2 separate regions of the Homo sapiens genome follow, and region 2 is linked to region 1. Evidence: fine-mapped expression QTL. A gene starts in region 1. The other region holds a variant in brackets. All regions are shown on one strand. Distances are from middle to middle. Region 1 holds the start of MROH1 (maestro heat like repeat family member 1). Region 2 overlaps MROH1 (maestro heat like repeat family member 1).

Region 1 (8,316 bases):
GACAGAGCGAGACTGTCTCAAAAAAAAAAATAATAATAATAATTTTTCACACGCCTGTAGTCCCAGCTACTCAGGAGGCTGAGGCAGGAGAATGGCTTGAACCCAGTAGGCAGAGGTTGCAATGAGCCAAAATCGTGCCACTGCACTCCAGCCTGGCGACAGAGCAAGACTCCGTCTCAAAAAAAAAAAAAATTTTTTTTAAATAAAAAAACAAGGCAGTTATGATAAACCAATCATAATATATATGAGAAAATGACTTGCCTGATATTAACATAGTAGTCCCCTCTTATCCTGTTTTACTTTCCTTGGTTTCAGTTACCCACAATCAAACATAGTCCAAAAATATTAAATAGAAAAATTCCAGAAATGAACTCATGTTTTAAATTGCAGGCTGTCTTGAGTATTGTCATAAACTGTTCTATTTTATTATTCATTGCTGTCAACCTCTTATTGTGCTTCATTTATAGTTAAACTTTATCATAGGTATATAGGTATGAGACATATCCCTGTGGACAGGGAAGGACTACTGTATGCAAAGGAGCTTGTGCACATCCCTGAGATAAACAGGAAAGAGAGCAAAGGACGTGCAAGAATTCTCAGAAGAGAGAGAGATCGCCGGCAGACATATGGGGACTGTGCTGACTGCCCCTAGGTTGAACAGAGACACTCAGCCACCCTTCCAGAGCCGACGGCAGTGCAGCACGGTGCTGCGGAAAGGTCCCCTTGTCCCCGTCGCAGGGCGTGTGACGTTGGTGCGAATTGCTTCTTCAGTGCCCCGCTGCCCAAACCTCTAGGGGGAGCACAGAGACGGGAGGCTGTATCTAGGGATGAATGTTTACACCTGAAGCCCCAGTGGGCGTGTGTTCCAGGGTGCTCTTTTAGTTTGCCGTCTATAGGCAGCTTGTGCTAAACAGCTCAATTAGACCCTCTACTTGTCGCAAGGACAGAGGGCTTTTTGTATCCCGGGTTCTTGCCCTTTGGTGTACCGGCAGAGTCGGATCACACCTGGGCTTGGAGAATGAGTGTAAAGTTCTATTGAGTGGAAGCAGCTCTCAGCCAATGGGGGAGCCAGAAAGGAGATGGTCTTCCTCTGGAGTTGGGCTGCTTGGTGGCCCCAGCTCTCCTCCGACTGCCCTGGCCAAACTCCACCTTGTCCAGCCAGTCGATGGCCTGCCAGAGTGCTGGCATCTGTTGGTGTGTTCTTCCACTGGCGTGTTCCCCTCGAGGTCCAGTTGCTTGTGTCTTCTTCCGCCAATCTGCTCCTCTCTATGTCCAGCTGCCTGTGTCCCTGCCTTGCTAGCATCTTGGAGGTTTTTTTTTTTTTTTTTTTTTTTTTTTGAGACAGAATATTGCTCTGTCACCCAGGCTGGAATGCAATGGCGCAATCTCGGCTCACTGTAACCTCCGCCTCCCAGGTTCAAGCGATTCTCCTGCCTTGGCCTCCTGAGTAGGTGGGATTACAGGCGCCCACCGCCACACTCGACGAATTTTTGTATTTTTAGTGGAGACGGGGTTTCACCATGTTGGCCAGGCTGGTCTCGAACTCCTGACCTCAAGTGATCCGCCTGCCTGGGCCTCCCAAAGTGCTGGGATTACAGGCGTGAGCCATCACGCCTGGCCTGGGTCTCAGGTTTATATAGGCACAGGAGCTATGTATGGCAGGCCAGGGTGGTCTTGGGAAATGTAACATTTGGGCAGGAAGGCAGGAGTGCCTGTCCTCATCTAGGTCCATGGTGGTGGAGCCCTAGCCAGGGACCATGCTCTACTCTACCCAGCACTTCCCTTCCCCTATTCCATAAGGGACCACACTCTTCTCTTCCCAGCCCTCCTGCATCAGTGGCTGGATAAGGGCTCAGTGGCAGAGCCAGTAAGCCATGAGCAGGCATGGAAAATCCCTGTGCCCTGTCCCACCACCTACAAATGGTGACGATCAGTGATGACTAGCTCCTCTATTTGTAGGCTACATGGCAAAAAGTGTCACCAGTCAAAGGCTTGCAGTGAGGCCAGCACACAGTTGAACACCAAGAGCATCTGACGTGCTGAGGACAGGGGCTACTCGGTGCTGGTGCCAGTAGCAGAACCTGAAGAACGGCCCCAACAAGCCTCAGTGGCTAAACATCCACTTTTCCACATCTATCTACAGATGCCCTCGTACTAGTACACACACATGTATATAATGGGGATGTCAGAAAAAAACACAAATGCCAATCAGGGCTCTGGTTAAATTAACAAAAAGCAAACGAATGGGAGAAGGTGGCAGGCAGGGTTGATAGGGTCTTCTCTCCCTACATAGCACACATTTCTGTGTGAATGAAAGAGCTGCTTCCTTTTCATTTAATTCAACCACATTTAGTAAACACCCGCCAGTCACCATCCCAGGCCCAGAGTTCCTGTCTTGAAAGCCCTCCGGCCACAAAAAGTATATGGCTGCCACACCTGTGCCCACAACAGAGGTGCTGCACTGGGTCCAAAAGGGTTAGGAGGGGGTGTGCGAGGCTGTGCAGGCCACAGGAATCAATAGCCCAGAAGCAGTGGTGAGCCAGCCTGCAGGGCTGGGTGTGTGCAGGGAGACTGGGAGGTCACAGAATGCCCCACCCACGCGTCAGGTCCAAGGAACCTTCTCTCCCAGCACAGCAGCCACAGAATCAACTTCCAAAGTCACCAATAAGGCTGATGACCCTGGGAAATGCAATCCCACAGCCCACTGCTCACAGTCCACCGAGAACATGGTTCCTCAATACAGGCCACACCAAGCTGTGTCACTGGTGCTCATGCAAACCCCCAAAACCAGGTGGCCCCTCAAGCTCAGTGAAGAAAGCACATTTCTCATGATGGGCAGCAGTCCATGTTCTCTGCACACTGGCTAGGAGCTCCCAAGAGCCACGGGAGCCTTTCCTGGTGCTCCTACCCCAAAGAAACCAAGCTGGGTGGACCGGCACAGACAGAGGATCTCTACCCCAAATAACCCAGCTCTGTGAAAGGGGGGCTACGAGACAGAGGGCAGCAACCAGGCTTCTCTCCTGGGCCTCTGTGGACCCTGGGAAAGAAAACTAAGCACCAGCACCTGTTTCCTGACACAGGAGACAGCCACGAACTCAGGCAAGCACATGCCCCACAGCCTCCACCTCTGACCCCCTGGTGTCCCTCAGCAGTCAGCAATCAACCCCAGCCAGTGGGAAATGACGAGGTGCAGGTCTCCACAAGCCACAGCGGCCTGCACGTCAGTTTCAAGTTAACAAAAACACCTTAGCCTCAGGTCATTCCACTCTGACATCAAAGAGAGACCAGAGACACCTGTTCACGGGGACCCTGAGAGCCTGAGACTGAGCACTGAAGATCCTGCTGACGGCAGCACCCTAGGGTGCCCAGACTGTCCATGCAGCCACGTCACAAACACGTACCACCTATGAAACATGCCGCAAACAACGATTCCCACACGCATCTCCAGCCCTCGCCTCGCCGGGACCCGAGGTCTTCGGGACATCTCCATCCATGGTCATCGCACTGAGACCCAACAGCTCTAAACTCAACTCACCACCCTCACCTGACTTATCACCGGCCCTACCCTGCCTGCCTCTTACCGCATCGTGTGCGTTCACCACCATCCCCTTCCAAAGTGGTCCCTGCCTACAGGGCTGTCCCCGACCCAACTCTGCTCACATCCCTAAGTTCGGCCACACCCCCGTACCCCTTTTCTGCTTACCTCACTGCACTTGAGTTTATGAGTCTGTCCCTTCCCCAACTGAGCAGGCAAAGGAGCCCCTCCCCAGAGTGTGTAGGACCGAGCCACCAGCGCCCGCAGAGTGGTTTCCTCTGACCCTCACACTGCAGCTGCACTGACGCTGCCCGAAAATCCGACCCCCTAAGTCTCACCTTGGCTGAGTGAGGGCTGGCTCCCGGCGGCCCTGCCAGCGCTATGCCCGGCACGCTATGACCAGTCATCCTCGTGACTAGGGACAAATCACCTTCCTGCTCGCGATCGTCAGAGAATACGGAAGGCATACGGAGGCCCGGGGCACGCCGGCTTTGCAGGCTCCGGGCGTATGCTTGGCTTCCCGGAGAGAGGACCCCCGGTGGCCCCGCCTGGGGGGAGAAGGGCCGGGGACCACCGCGCTCCCGGGGAGGGCCGGGCACTGGGGACCACCGGGCTCACAGGAGGGGCGGGCACCGGGGACCACCGGGCTCCCGCGGAGGGGCGGGCACCGGGGACCACCAAGCTCCCCGAAGAGGGGTGGTCGCGCGGCCGAGACGACTTAGCGGCGCAGAGGAGGAGCACAGCCGCACAGCTCCGGCCTCTCTTCCGGGCTGTGGCGCGGCGCACACCTGAGCCGAGGTCCCCGCGACACCCAGGACCCTCCCAGCGTTCGCCCTGTGACCTTGGGGAGGCGCCTCCTGACTCGGCTTCCTCCGCGGCCCCGCCAAGGGAGCCGCCCCAGGCTCTTCAGCCCAGACTTCCCCGAGGGGCTCTTCCCCAGCGCCGCCGAAGGCTCATCCCCACCCGCCGTTTACCTGAGGAGCCGCCGCCACCTCGGCCGGGGCGCCGCCTTCCCGCCCAGCAGGGGCCCGGAGTGGGCGGAGCCGCGCGCGCCGAGCCCGCCCCCGCTGCCTTCTGGCCACCCGCAGCCTGGAGCGCGGCAGCAGGTCCCCGCCCCCGAGCGATCTCTGCACTTATTGGTCGGGGGCACGTCTCTCACGCTCGCTCCACCCCGCCCACCTTCATTTGCAAAGCAGCAGTGCGCAGACTCCGCCTCACGCTCGGCCCCGCCCGTCTGTTGAGCGACAGTTCGGCCGCCACGGCGCAGGCGCGGCCTTCAGGCTCGCGACAGCTACGCCAGCCCCGGGGTGCTGCAGTCCCCGTGTCCCCGTCGGACGCATACAGCCCTGACGACCTCCGCTCCCAGACGCCGGGGACGCGGGCTCGGCGCGGCGTTGCGGCCGCTCGCAAGCACACGCCCGCCCTGGACTCGCGCGGCCCGCCCGCCCTCTGTCTGCCCCGGAAGCGCCAGCTGGAGGCCGCGGCACCCGGAGGGGGGCAGGACTCGCAGGGCCCTGCGCTCGTTGGGAAAGAGGCGACCAGCGGGGTCCCGGGAACTCGGGACGCGATAAGAGCGATGTGAGGAAGGAAAGCGCCCGCCGCGCGTCCAGGCTGGGCGTCGGCAGAGGCGGAGGCGGCGGGAGCAGCGCGGGCAGGATGTCCACTCCTGGCCGGAGGGACTGGGCTCCCGCTGTGGGGACGGCGCCCGGGAGAGCGCAGTACCCTTTGCGGATGCGGGCGCGGCCCCTGCGGCGGCTTCCCACGCGCCTGTGGCCTTGTCCCCTCCCGGTCTCGGTGCCGCCCCCGCCTCACGCACACCAGCTGCCGCGCGCAGCACAGCCCCACTTTCACTCCGATCACAAACGAACGCCAGCCCCTCCGCCAGGGGCAGGCCTGAGTCTGTATTTTGCTCCCGAGGGCTGCTTACAAAGCCCCGCACGGGACGGCTGCCCAATGAAGCCCCGGGAATGGACTCAGGTGCAGGCAACGACGCGGATAATCGAGACTGCAAAGGGAGGGTGGACAGAGCCAATGGCCGTTCTGATCCTGCAGTCATCACTTGGCTTGACACTCGCGGGCTTCCAGCTGTGTCCTGCCACTGGTGGGAGCGGAGGTGTGCCGCAGGGGCCGCAGGCTCCCAGGCTCCGCAGCAGAGCCCAGAGGCTCAGCCACCCTGGGTCGGGACCACCTGGCTCCGGTTCTAGAGTGGCCGCTTCTTGCAGCCCCCACCTTCGACGAACTCCACCCTGCCCCCGTGCCTCTCAAGCCCTTCTGACACTTAAGCAACCAATCCCACCTGCTTAAATTGCCTGGCGCAGTTTCTATTTTTTTCCTAATGAAGGGGTGGCCTGCCCCTCCACACCTGTGGGTATTTCTAGTCGGGTGGGACGAGAGACTGAGAAAAGAAATAAGACACAGAGACAAAGTATAGAGAAACAACAGTGGGCCCAGGGGACCAGCACTCAGCACACCAAGGACCTGCACCAGCACCGGCCTCTGAGTTCCCTCAGTTTTTATTATTATTTTCATTATTTCAGCAAAAAGGAATGTTGTAGGAGAGCAGGGTGATGAGAAGGTCAGCAAAAAACGTGAGCAAAAGCATCTATGTCATAATTAAGTTCAAGGGAAGGTACTATGACTGGACGTGCACTTAAGCCAGATTTATGTTTCTCTCCACCCAAACATCTCAGTGGAGTAAAGAATAACAAAGCAGCATTACTGCAAACATGTCTCACCTCCCACCATAGGGCGGTTTTTCTCCTAGCTCAGAACTGAATGTACAATCGGGTTTTATACCAAGACATTCAGTTTCCAGGGGCAGGCAGGAGACAGTGGCCTTCCTCTAACTCAACTGCAAGAGGCTTTCCTCTTTTACTAATCCACCTCAGCACAGACCCTTTACGGGTGTCAGTTTGGGGGACAGTCAGGTCTTTCTCATCCCACGAGGCCATATTTCAGACTATCACATGGGGAGAAACCTTGGACAATACCCTGCTTTCAAGGGCAGAGGTCCCTGTGGCTTTCCACAGTGCATTGTGCCCCTGGTTTATCGAGACTAGAGAATGGTGATGACTTTTACCAAGTATACTGCTTGTAAACATTTTGTTAATAAAGCACGTCCTGCACAGCCCTAGATCCCTTAAACCTTGATTTCATACAACACACGTTTTTGTGAGCTCCAGGTTGGATCAAAGTGGCTGGGGCAAAGCTACAAATTAACAACATCTCAGCAACGCAATTGTTTAAAGTACAGGTCTTTTTCAAAATGGAGTCTCTTATGTCTTCCCTTTCTACATAGACACAGGGACAGTCTGATCTGTCTTTCTTTTCCCTACACCTAACCCCCAGGTCAACCACAAACCAGTTTGTTTCTTCTGAGGTCTAACTGTCCCCTAGGCTGGAGTGCAGTGGCGCGATCTCGGCTCACTGCAACCTCTGCCTCCCGGGTTCACGCCATTCTTCCGCCTCAGCCTCCCGACTGGCTGGGACTACAGGTGCCTGCCACCATGCCCGGCTAATTTTTTTTTTTTGTATTTTTTGTAGAGACAGGGTTTCACCGTGTTAACCAGGATGGTCTCTATCTCCTGACCTCGTGATCTGCCCGTCTTGGCCTCCCAAAGTGCTGGGATTAAAGGCATGAGCCACCGCGCCCGGCCCAAGCTGGGTTTTATTGTTGAAATGAGGCCTCTCACTGTTACCCAGGCTGGAGTGCAGTGGCACAATCATAGCTCACAGCAGCCTTAAATTCCTGCGCTCAAGTGATCCTCTCGCCTCAGCCTCCCAAATAGCTGGGATTGCAAGTGGGAACCACCAAGTCTGGCTAATTTTTAAATTTTGTTGCAGAGACAAGGTCTCACTATGTTACCCAGGCTGGTCTGCAACTCCTGGCCTCAAGAGATCCTCCTGCCTTGGTCACCCAAAGTGCTGGGATTACAGGCATAAGCCACTACACCCAGACCTTGTCCTTATTTTCTGTATCCCAGGCAATTTGCCAAACAAGGCCTGAGGGTGAGCAAAGGAATATCAAACACATGCTTTGCTCTCAAGAAGCTCGTGGTCCAAAAGGGATGAGAAAGTGTGTTTTTCCAGTTCAAGCCAGCCCATTCTGGGGCCTTTTCTGCAGCAAACATGCCAAGTGCACCCACAGATCTTGGTGGAGACCCCAATTCCCCAGACTCACTGGTCTGTACCAAGCACCAGACCCTTGCAGACATTCCCAGGATGGCTGCCCATCAGGCAGCCCTGCCCTCCAGGCCCACAGCCACTGTGCTGTCTAGCTCACAGCAGAGATGACACATTTGGGTTGGGCTTCCCCACCATGGCGGCTCAATTTCATCATCTGTAAAGCGAGGATTGCTTGGTTGTGTTAGGACTTGAGATCCCAGATGTGAACTGCCCCCACAGGCTGGGCTCCTGAATGTCTTCTGTGAACGGGGGCAGGACTGCTACAGGTGGTAGTGGTAGCTGGTGCGACTGCCCAGAATGGCACCCGGCACAGAGCTGGCACTCAAACGTTAGCAGTAATAGTGCCCACAGGGCACTCTGGGGTCCAGAAGGGAGGGGCAAGGTTGGCTTCTGTCTCTTGGAACTGTAGGATCAGAGGTAGGCTCAGGAGTGGGGCCCTTGCTTGCCCTGGGGTGTGTGGTCAAGTCTGCAGAGGTCTCTAGGTGGGACGCTTCCTGCACCTTGCTGGCCTGGGCAGGAGGTGCTTCAGGCTCCAGTGGAGAAGGCCGGGAGACAGAGCTCCTGCCTGCCTTCCTCTGGCTCAGCCCACCTTAGGG
Region 2 (8,316 bases), 33 kb before region 1:
TGGGAGAGAGCCCACTGCGGAGCCCACGGAGCACTGCCTGGGAAGTGGCACTCTCCTGGAGCACTCGCTGCTGGGCTTTCAGAGGTGGCTGCACTGGGCACGCGGTCCCCTCGGCGGCCCTTGCTGGTCCCTTGTGGTCCCCACGTCGCCCCTCGCCGCCCCCCCGCCACCCCTCACCATCCCCCCACGGTCCCTGCACTGCCCCTCACCGCCCCCCCGTGGTTCCCACACTGCCCCTCACGTCCCCTCGAGGTCCCTGCGCCGCCCCTCCCCCTCCCCCCACGGTCCCCGCACTGCCCCTCACGTCCCCTCGAGGTCCCCGCGCCGCCCCTCACCGTCCCCCCGCCGCCCCTCCCCCTCCCCCCACGGTCCCCGCACTGCCCCTCACGTCCCCTCGAGGTCCCTGCGCCGCCCCTCACCGTCCCCCCCCCCGGCCCTCACCGCCCCCCGCGGTCCCCGCACTGCCTCTCACATCCCCTCAAGGCCCCTGCGCCGCCCCTCACCGCCCCTCTCACGGTCCCCATGCCACCCCTCACATCTCCCCGCGGTCCCCGCGCCACCCCTCGCTGTCCTCACATCTATTCACCTCCTGTTTACCACTTGGCTTGTTTCTCTCTTTTCTCTTGATGAGGCAGCAGCTTAAGTATTTAATTCACTTATTTCAAAGAACTAGGTATAAAACATAACGTTTTGCCAACTGCTTATTTTCTAAAGCATTAGTTTCTGTGTTTTCTGCCTTGCTCAGGTCTGGGTAGGTGAGACCACAGTAACGACAAAACTTGCAACGGCCTGACACATACAGTGAGATGGGAGGGCTCAGCTCCCACTTCCCACCCTGCAGAAACCACAGAGGCCAGGGAGGGTCAGGCGGCACAGCACGAGGATTCCAGTGGAACCGGCAGGCTGCCTGCAGGAGCGACACACTGCACAGAAATCCTGGGACTGCAACACTGCAGTGGTTTCCCTAAAGCTACAAGACACTTCCCTCCCCGACAGAGAAAAGGGCAAGAGGCTGCCTGCCTCCCCCTCCTCCTCAGCTCCTTTCTTGCTGGCGCGGGGATCCCCTGCACACCTGTCACTCACCAGCAGCACCCAGGGCCTCCACACCCTCTCCAGTGCAGGGGGTGGGGACTCCTGCTCTGCCCCAGCCCCATAGCGTCCTTCTGCCCTGGGTGGAGGTGACAGGGCTCCAGGGAACAGGTCTGGCACTGGCTGTGAAAGTCAGCAGCTCCTGGCGGCCCCTCCACAGCATCTCCCTTTGATGATGCCGGTGAGCCTGGGCCTCTTCTCACCTCTTCTGGACTCGTGCTCTGTAGCTGGGGGTGCTCGGCCAGCTCACCTGACGCCTGCCCCGCACCCCCTTCTCTCTGCCAGCTCAGGGCTGCCCTCCGGGTTGTCCCCAGACCCCTGTCCAGCTGGTGCACTCTCTTCAGTGTCTGCAACCGGCTGCCACACCCACCTCCTTACTCTTTAATGGAAATGGTTACAGTTTTGTTTCTAGACTGTATTTGGTTCTCTTTTCACACTGGCTCTGTCCTTGTAGGACCCTGTCCTTTCTCCCTTTCGCCTCTTTACCTTGCTATTTTTATCCTGTATCTCATCAATCCAAATTATGTGACTTTCTGCTCTAATGCTCCTTTTTTTGTGTGCTGACGTGTGTGCTTTGTGACTGTAACTGATATTGCTGGTCCTGGGTCCGTGGAGAGCTGCTGGCCCCACACCAGAGCCGAGACCCTGCGCTCCAGGGAAGCGCTGCTTCCCACGGCCACACCCCCCGGCCAGAGCCACTGCCATGCAGCCTGACTGGGACGCAAACATTCAGTAGGACACTGGTCACCCCACCCAGGACACTTCAGCCCGGCCCATTTACACGGCTAACGTCTCAGCTTAAGGGCTTCCCAGTCCAACACAAAGAACAACTTTGAACCCTACAACTACATCAGGACAGACCATGGTTACAAATTCTCAGGAGAGAGGATTTAAAAGAAATTCTAAAAGAAAACAGACTACCTCCCAGGGTGCACAGTGGAAGGTTCCTCATCAGTCACTTTTTGCTGAGGAGGGGCCTTGAAGGGTCTGGTACAGGTGGGCTCTGACCCAGTGCAAAGAAAGGCCTTGTCTGGCCAGGCGCGGTGGTCCATGCCTGTAATCCCAGCACTTTGGGAGGCCGAGGCGGGCGGATCACGAGGTCAGGAGATCCAGACCATCCTGGCTAACATGGTGAAACCCCGTCTCCACTAAAAATACAAAAAATTAGCCAGGCGTGGTGGTGGGCGCCTGTAGTCCCAGCTACTCGGAGAGGCTGAGGCAGGCGAATGGCGTGAACCTGGGAGGCAGAGCTTGCAGTGAGCCGAGATCGCGCCACTGCACTCCAGCCTGGGCAACAGAGCGAGACTCCATCTCAAAAAAAAAGAAAAAAGAAAAAAGAAGAAGAAAGGCCTTGTCTCCCATGTGAAATCAAGGCAGGCAGGTGCCCAGGGGCCACTGGAGAGCTCTAACCTCTCACCTCCCCTCTTGACCTCCGTGGGCCTAGGTTTCTCCTTCTGATTGATCAGAAGGATGCTGGTCAACTCATCAGCATTCCAGGTATTCGGCAGTGGGAAGTTTTTTCAGAATAACAGACCACCATAATGCCACAAGCAGAAGCCCACCCCTGTTGTGTTATTAGGATTTTTTTTTTTTTTTTTGAGACAGAGTCTTGCTCTGTCACCCAGGCTGGAGTTCAGTAGCTTGATCTTGGTTCACTGCAGCCTCGACTTCCCAGGGTCAAGCAATCCTCCTGCCTCAGCCTTCCAAGGAGCTGGAATACAGGCATGTGCTACCATACCTGGCAAATTTTTAAAAATATTTTTTCTAACGATGGGGTCTCACCATGCTGCCCAGCCTGGTTTCGAATTCCTGGGCTCAAGTGATCCTCCCATTTTGGCCTCCCAAAGTACTGGGATTACAGGCGTAAGCTACCATGCCCAGCTAGTTTTGATTTGTTTGTTTTGAGACAGAGTCTCACTCTGTCACCCGGGCTGGAGTACAGTGGTGCAATCTTGGCTCACTGCAGCCTCCGCCTCCGAGGTTCAAGCAATCCTCCTGTCTCATCCACAGTATCAGGGATTACAGACATGCGCCACCACACCCGGCTAATTTTTTTGTATTTTTAGTAGAGACGGGGTTTTGCCATGTTGGCCAGACTGGTCTTGAACTCCTGACCTCAAGTGATCAGCCCGCTTCGGCTTTCCAAAGTGCTGGGATTACAGGCATGAGCCACCGCACCCGGCCACTAGGGCATGCCTTTGCGTCATCTCTTGACCTCCCATCTCTGTCCATTCTTTCTAGGGTGCCTCTGATTGGAATGCTGGCTTCAGGGTTCAGCCTGCTAGTTCATTCTTCTCTTTCTCTCCTACTTTCCATATTTTTGCCTTTTTCCTCTATTTTCTGGAAATTTCCACAACTTTCTCTTCCAATTCTTCTATTATTTTTCCCATTTCTATTATGGCATCTTTAATT[C/T]ACAGAAGGTCAGTTTTATTCTCTCAATGTGGCTTCTCCATGGTGACACCTCTTGTCCCGTGAATGCATGATGCCCACTTATTTTCCTGAGGATATTAATCAGAGATTTTCTTTCTCTGTTATTTTCTTCTCCCTGAACCATCTACATCTCCAATTAGTGTCTGTTTCTTTTGTTGCCACCTTTCCTACTGGAGGGGTTCCTTGGCCGGGAGGAATTACTGGATGCCTGCCCTGCTGGACGGCGTGGCCAGGCCAGCCGTGCCTCCACCACTGGGAGTCTTCCCTGAGGCTCCTCGCCTCCTGGCTGCAGTGCCCTGAGGGCACTCCTGTCCTTGGCACACTGCCTGTCCTGGCTGGACCTGCACCCTCCCGCAGTGGACGCAGGCCTGCCACCGCCCCCACCACTAGGCCTCACCCGGTTGATACGGCTTCCTCTGGCCCCAGGCTGCTCCAGCCAGCAGGACCACCAACCCCTCCAGATGCAAACAGGGAACGTTCCATTTGTGGTGGGGAGCACACGTCCCACACGAGGAGGTCCCATGGAATCTTCGCTGGCTGAACCCATGTGTTTGACACATGGAGGAAAATGCCAGCATGGTAGGGCCCAGAGGAGCCGCAGGTCCCCTATGAAGGGGAAGGTAAGCAAGAGGTGTCAGAACTGCAAGTCCGTTTCTGCTTAGAGCCTCAGCAGCTGCAGGGATCAGGCCACTTCCCAGAGGAGTGGCGGGAAGGGGCGATGTGCGTGCAGCACAGAGACAGGCGCCCCAGCGGCCCCGTTCTGTCTCCGCCCTGCAGCCTGGATGGCACGTCCTGCGCCCCAGGCACCTTAGCTGAGTCCACACCCACACCCACTTCCACTCTCTGCTCCTTCACACCTGGCTCAGTATGCAGCTGCCCCCATCCTGTCACCAATCCCATTTTTAGCCAAAACTGGGTCACATGGAGTTACTATCCCTTCTACCCAAGGGGCCCTGCCCTCATCCACAGGTGAGAAAGAGCCTGTGAAGGAGTGCCCCAAAGATGAAGGCATTTATCAAAGAGCAGGGCCAGGAGAGACGGAGCGCAAGGGCTGAGGAGAGGGTGGCAGGAGCCCTGTGATCTGAACCCAAAGTCACCAGGAGCAGAGCAGGTGGGTCCAAATGCTCCAAACCAACCCTGCAGTCTACAGAGCCCAGCCCAGCCCTGTAACCACTCCCTCCATGCTTCGAAAACATGCCCTGCCCGGGCCCCACCAGGCCCCTCCCCCATCACCGGCCCCTCCCCCATCACCGGGCCCCTCCCCCATCACTGGGTCCTCCCACACCTGCTGCCTGGAACTAACGGCCCCCGGCCCCAGAGGGCTGGCTCTTTACGAGGGCTGGTCCCCTGGGCACGAGGGTCCTGTTCTCCTCCCGGCCAGCTACCAGGGCTGGCCGTCTTCCTGACATGGGACACCGGGAGCACGAGGCCGTGGGCTGTGAGGGCACTAAGGGTAGCTCAGGATCTCTAATCTCCACACCCCCTTCTAACAGAAATGCCCTCCAATCCCACCAACCACTCCCCCACTGTCAGTGGCAGGGGAAACCAAGGTCCAGGCCCATGACATGCCCGCAGTCCCCTGCCAGGCACACAGAGGGCTGTGGGCAGTGCTGCCAGGAATGGGGCTCCTGGCAGAGGGTGGGGGTGAATGAATGTGCCCCCATCCCCTGGGTCCTGGGATGCCCAGAGAGCGGACACTTTTCTAGCCTGGAGTGGGGAGGAAAACAAAAAGTCATGGCTTCGAGGAAGTCTCTTCCTACCCCCCAGGCACGTCCAGCCCTCAGTGGACCCACAATGTAAGGTGGGGGGCTCTCCAGGAGTAGAGAGAAACAAGAGACAGAGGCTGTGTCAGCCCCACATGGGCCCCCCAACCAGCCAGCAGCCTCAGCCAGGGGGCCCCTCCCTCCAACAGCCCCCCTTCCTGCAGCCTAAAGTGCCCACCTGTCCCCCCTAAAACAGGCATGCCCGGGAACAGCCCCCCACAAAGGGGCACTTGAGACAGAAGGTGACGAGGCCGCCTCTTACCGGAGCAGAAGGCCACGCGCACCGTGTCCTGCTTGGCCACGCCCAGCACGGGCAGCAGGGAGCTCAGGACGGATGGCAGGAAGGGGACTACGCCGAACGCTGTGAGAGAGGACACCGTCAAAGGCCTCCGCCAAGGCTTCCAGCGCCCCGTGCTCCTCCTGGGGCAGGCCGCGCGTCACCTACCGTTGGCCACCGAGAGGCTGGCGAGGGTGTGCAGCACGGCGCAGTGTGGCAGGGTCCCAGGGTGCAGCCTGCGCAGCAGCTCCTCCATCACCTTGCTGATGAACTGTCTTCCCACGGCCACCAGGACGCCACTCGCCGCCTGCTGCCAGTCCCAGACCAGGTCCTGAACCCAAAACACCGGCAGGTAGACCAAAAGGCAAGACCAAGACATTCTGCCCTCAGTCGCTGCCAGCCTTGGACAAGCGCACGCTGTTTTCAGCGTCCCCAGAAAGTGCAGGTCAGGGAAGGTGGCGGGCACAGCCTCCTCTGCTGAGGGGCTGCTGAGGAGACCCCACACGCAGGAGCAGCAGAGCCCTGGTGAGAGGTGAGGGGCTGCTGAGGAGACCCCACACGCAGGAGCAGCAGAGCCCTGGTGAGAGGGGGCTGCACTCAGTGCCCTGAGAGTTAGGCCCACCAGAGCCCTGCACCAACCCCAATGCCGGGCACAGCCTTTGGCCCCAGCTGCACGCACACCACGGTCCTGCGTGTGCTGAGTTCTGGCAACTTGCTCTCTGCTTCAGTTGCTGCCTCTGAAAATCACAGGGGACCACCCCCCACCCCTGCAGGGTGATGCATGAGACCGAAGGGCATCTGCCAGCCCAAGGCAGCCAAACACCACCCTATACTCTCAAGGCTGCTGGGTAGAAAGGCCAAGAAGCAGCTTCCCTTCCCAAGCTAGGCCTGAGTCTGCGAGGCCAGAGGGCCTGCTGAATACCTTCGTCTTGGTCATCTCGCTGGAGGCCAGGAGGATGATGGTGCTGGCTGTGTCCTTGTCCAGCTCACTGGCGCGACTGCTCAGGACCCTCTCCATGGCCCTCAGGACCGCTGCTCGGTATGGGTGTGCCAGCTGCGGAGAGACACCGTCCAGGTCGGTCCCAGGTGAGCCCCACACCCAGACACTCTGAGTGCCTGTCACTGTCTCTACAAGATGAAACCGCACAAATCTCTCTGCCTCAAGTGCAGGAGGGGAGGGGTACACCTGATCACTCCTCACGCCCTAAAAGCCGGCCTGCAAGCCTCACACTCACGGCCCATCTCCAGAAGGGTGGAGCGTTATCCTGCGCCAGACAACCAACATGCAGAGGGCGAGGCGGGGGGCTTCTCTCCTCCAGGGGTAGTCAGTAGGGTCTCCCAGTCACATGACACTCCCAGGACCCTTCCACCTCCTTGCCCTGCCCTCCCCTGTCAGAGGAGGAGCACACTCCTGTCCCCAGCTCAGTGGTCATGGCCTCAGTCTCTGCCGCTAGGCTAGTGCTTGTATCCAACGGCCCCTCCCCAAGGCTGCTAAGGAAAAACGCCACCCACCACACCACCTTCTGCCACGCCCCCAAGCCACCTCCACCTCCCAGGTTAACCCTCCGCAGAGTCCAACCACCTGCCTTCATCCTCCCCCTAAGCAGCTCTCCTGTCGACCACCACCTCCACTGTAAATCCAAAGAGCACACACTGTCCTTGCCTCAACTGGGGACACACCAAGGACTGGGACTGAAAGCTGGGACCCGCGGGGGCACACAGCAGAGTAGGCTACTGCCCAACCCAGGAAAGGAACCTGGGGCACCCAGCCACCCTGTGTTGACAGCCCCTCCCCAATGATGCACCCACCATGGCCCCTCCCTCCACCACCCTGAGAGCAGCCTGCACCAGGCAACATGGCCGGCACAGGGCGGCCCAGAGGCCCACAGGCTCTGTCGTCCATTCTCACATGGCTATAAAGAGGTGACCTGCAAAAACCCGAACAGGCGCGGTGGCTCACGCCTGTAATCTCAACACTTAGGGAGGCCGAGGCGGGCGGATCACCTGATGTCAGGGGTTCAAGACCAGCCTGGCCAACATGGTGAAACCCTGTCTCTACTAAAAAAAAAAAAGTACAGGCCGTGCGTGGTGGCTCACGCCTGTAATCTCAACACTTAGGGAGGCTGAGGCGGGCGGATCACCTGATGTCAGGGGTTCGAGACCAGCCTGGCCAATATGGTGAAACCCCGTCTCTACTAAAAATACAAAAATTAGCCGTGTGTGGTGGCGCACACCTGTAGTCCCAGCTACTCGGGAGGCTGAGGCAGAAGAATCGCTTGAACCCGGGAGGCAGAGGTTGCAGAGCCGAGATCGCGCCACTGCACTCCAGCCTGGGCCACGGAGCAAGACTCTGTCTCAAAAAAAAAACACAAAAAACAAAAATTACCCAGTCACAGTGGCCGGCACCTGTAATCCCAGCTACTTGGGAGGCTGAGGCAGGAGAAAAGCTTGAACCCGGGAGGTGGAGGTTGCAGTGAGCCGAGATCACACCACTCCAGCCTGGGCGACAGAGCAAGACTGTCTCAAAGAAAAAAAAAAAAAGAAGAAGAAATACCGGAGACTGGGTAACTTACAAAGAAAAAAGGTCTAATTAGCTCAAAGTTGCAGGCTGTACAGGAAGCATGGCTGGGGAGGCCTCAGGAAAACACAATCGTGGTGGAAAATGAAGCAGAAGCAGGCACATCTCACATAGCCTGAGCAGGAGGAAGACAGAGGAGGAGGAAGAGAAGAAGCCACATGCTTTCAAACAACCAGATC

Evidence for each region.
Region 2: its variant is fine-mapped to the expression of MROH1 in esophagus mucosa (GTEx, PIP 0.95).

The regions. Positions count from the first base shown.
Region 1 is chr8:144,144,270-144,152,585 of GRCh38, reverse strand. It overlaps MROH1 (maestro heat like repeat family member 1), which reads right to left and starts at 4,570. Exons shown (of 44, transcript NM_032450.3): 1 at 4,510-4,570. RefSeq lists silencers at 4,339-4,718, 4,889-5,088, 5,209-5,298.
Region 2 is chr8:144,177,752-144,186,067 of GRCh38, reverse strand. MROH1 (maestro heat like repeat family member 1) reads right to left here. Exons shown (of 44, transcript NM_032450.3): 5 at 6,482-6,613; 6 at 5,728-5,890; 7 at 5,545-5,643. Among named protein-coding and RNA genes, the nearest start is that of MROH1, 34 kb to the right of the region's middle. RefSeq lists silencers at 740-789, 3,831-4,003 and enhancers at 1,135-1,678, 4,809-5,526, 7,066-7,879. The variant C/T (reference allele first, on the strand shown) is at 3,502.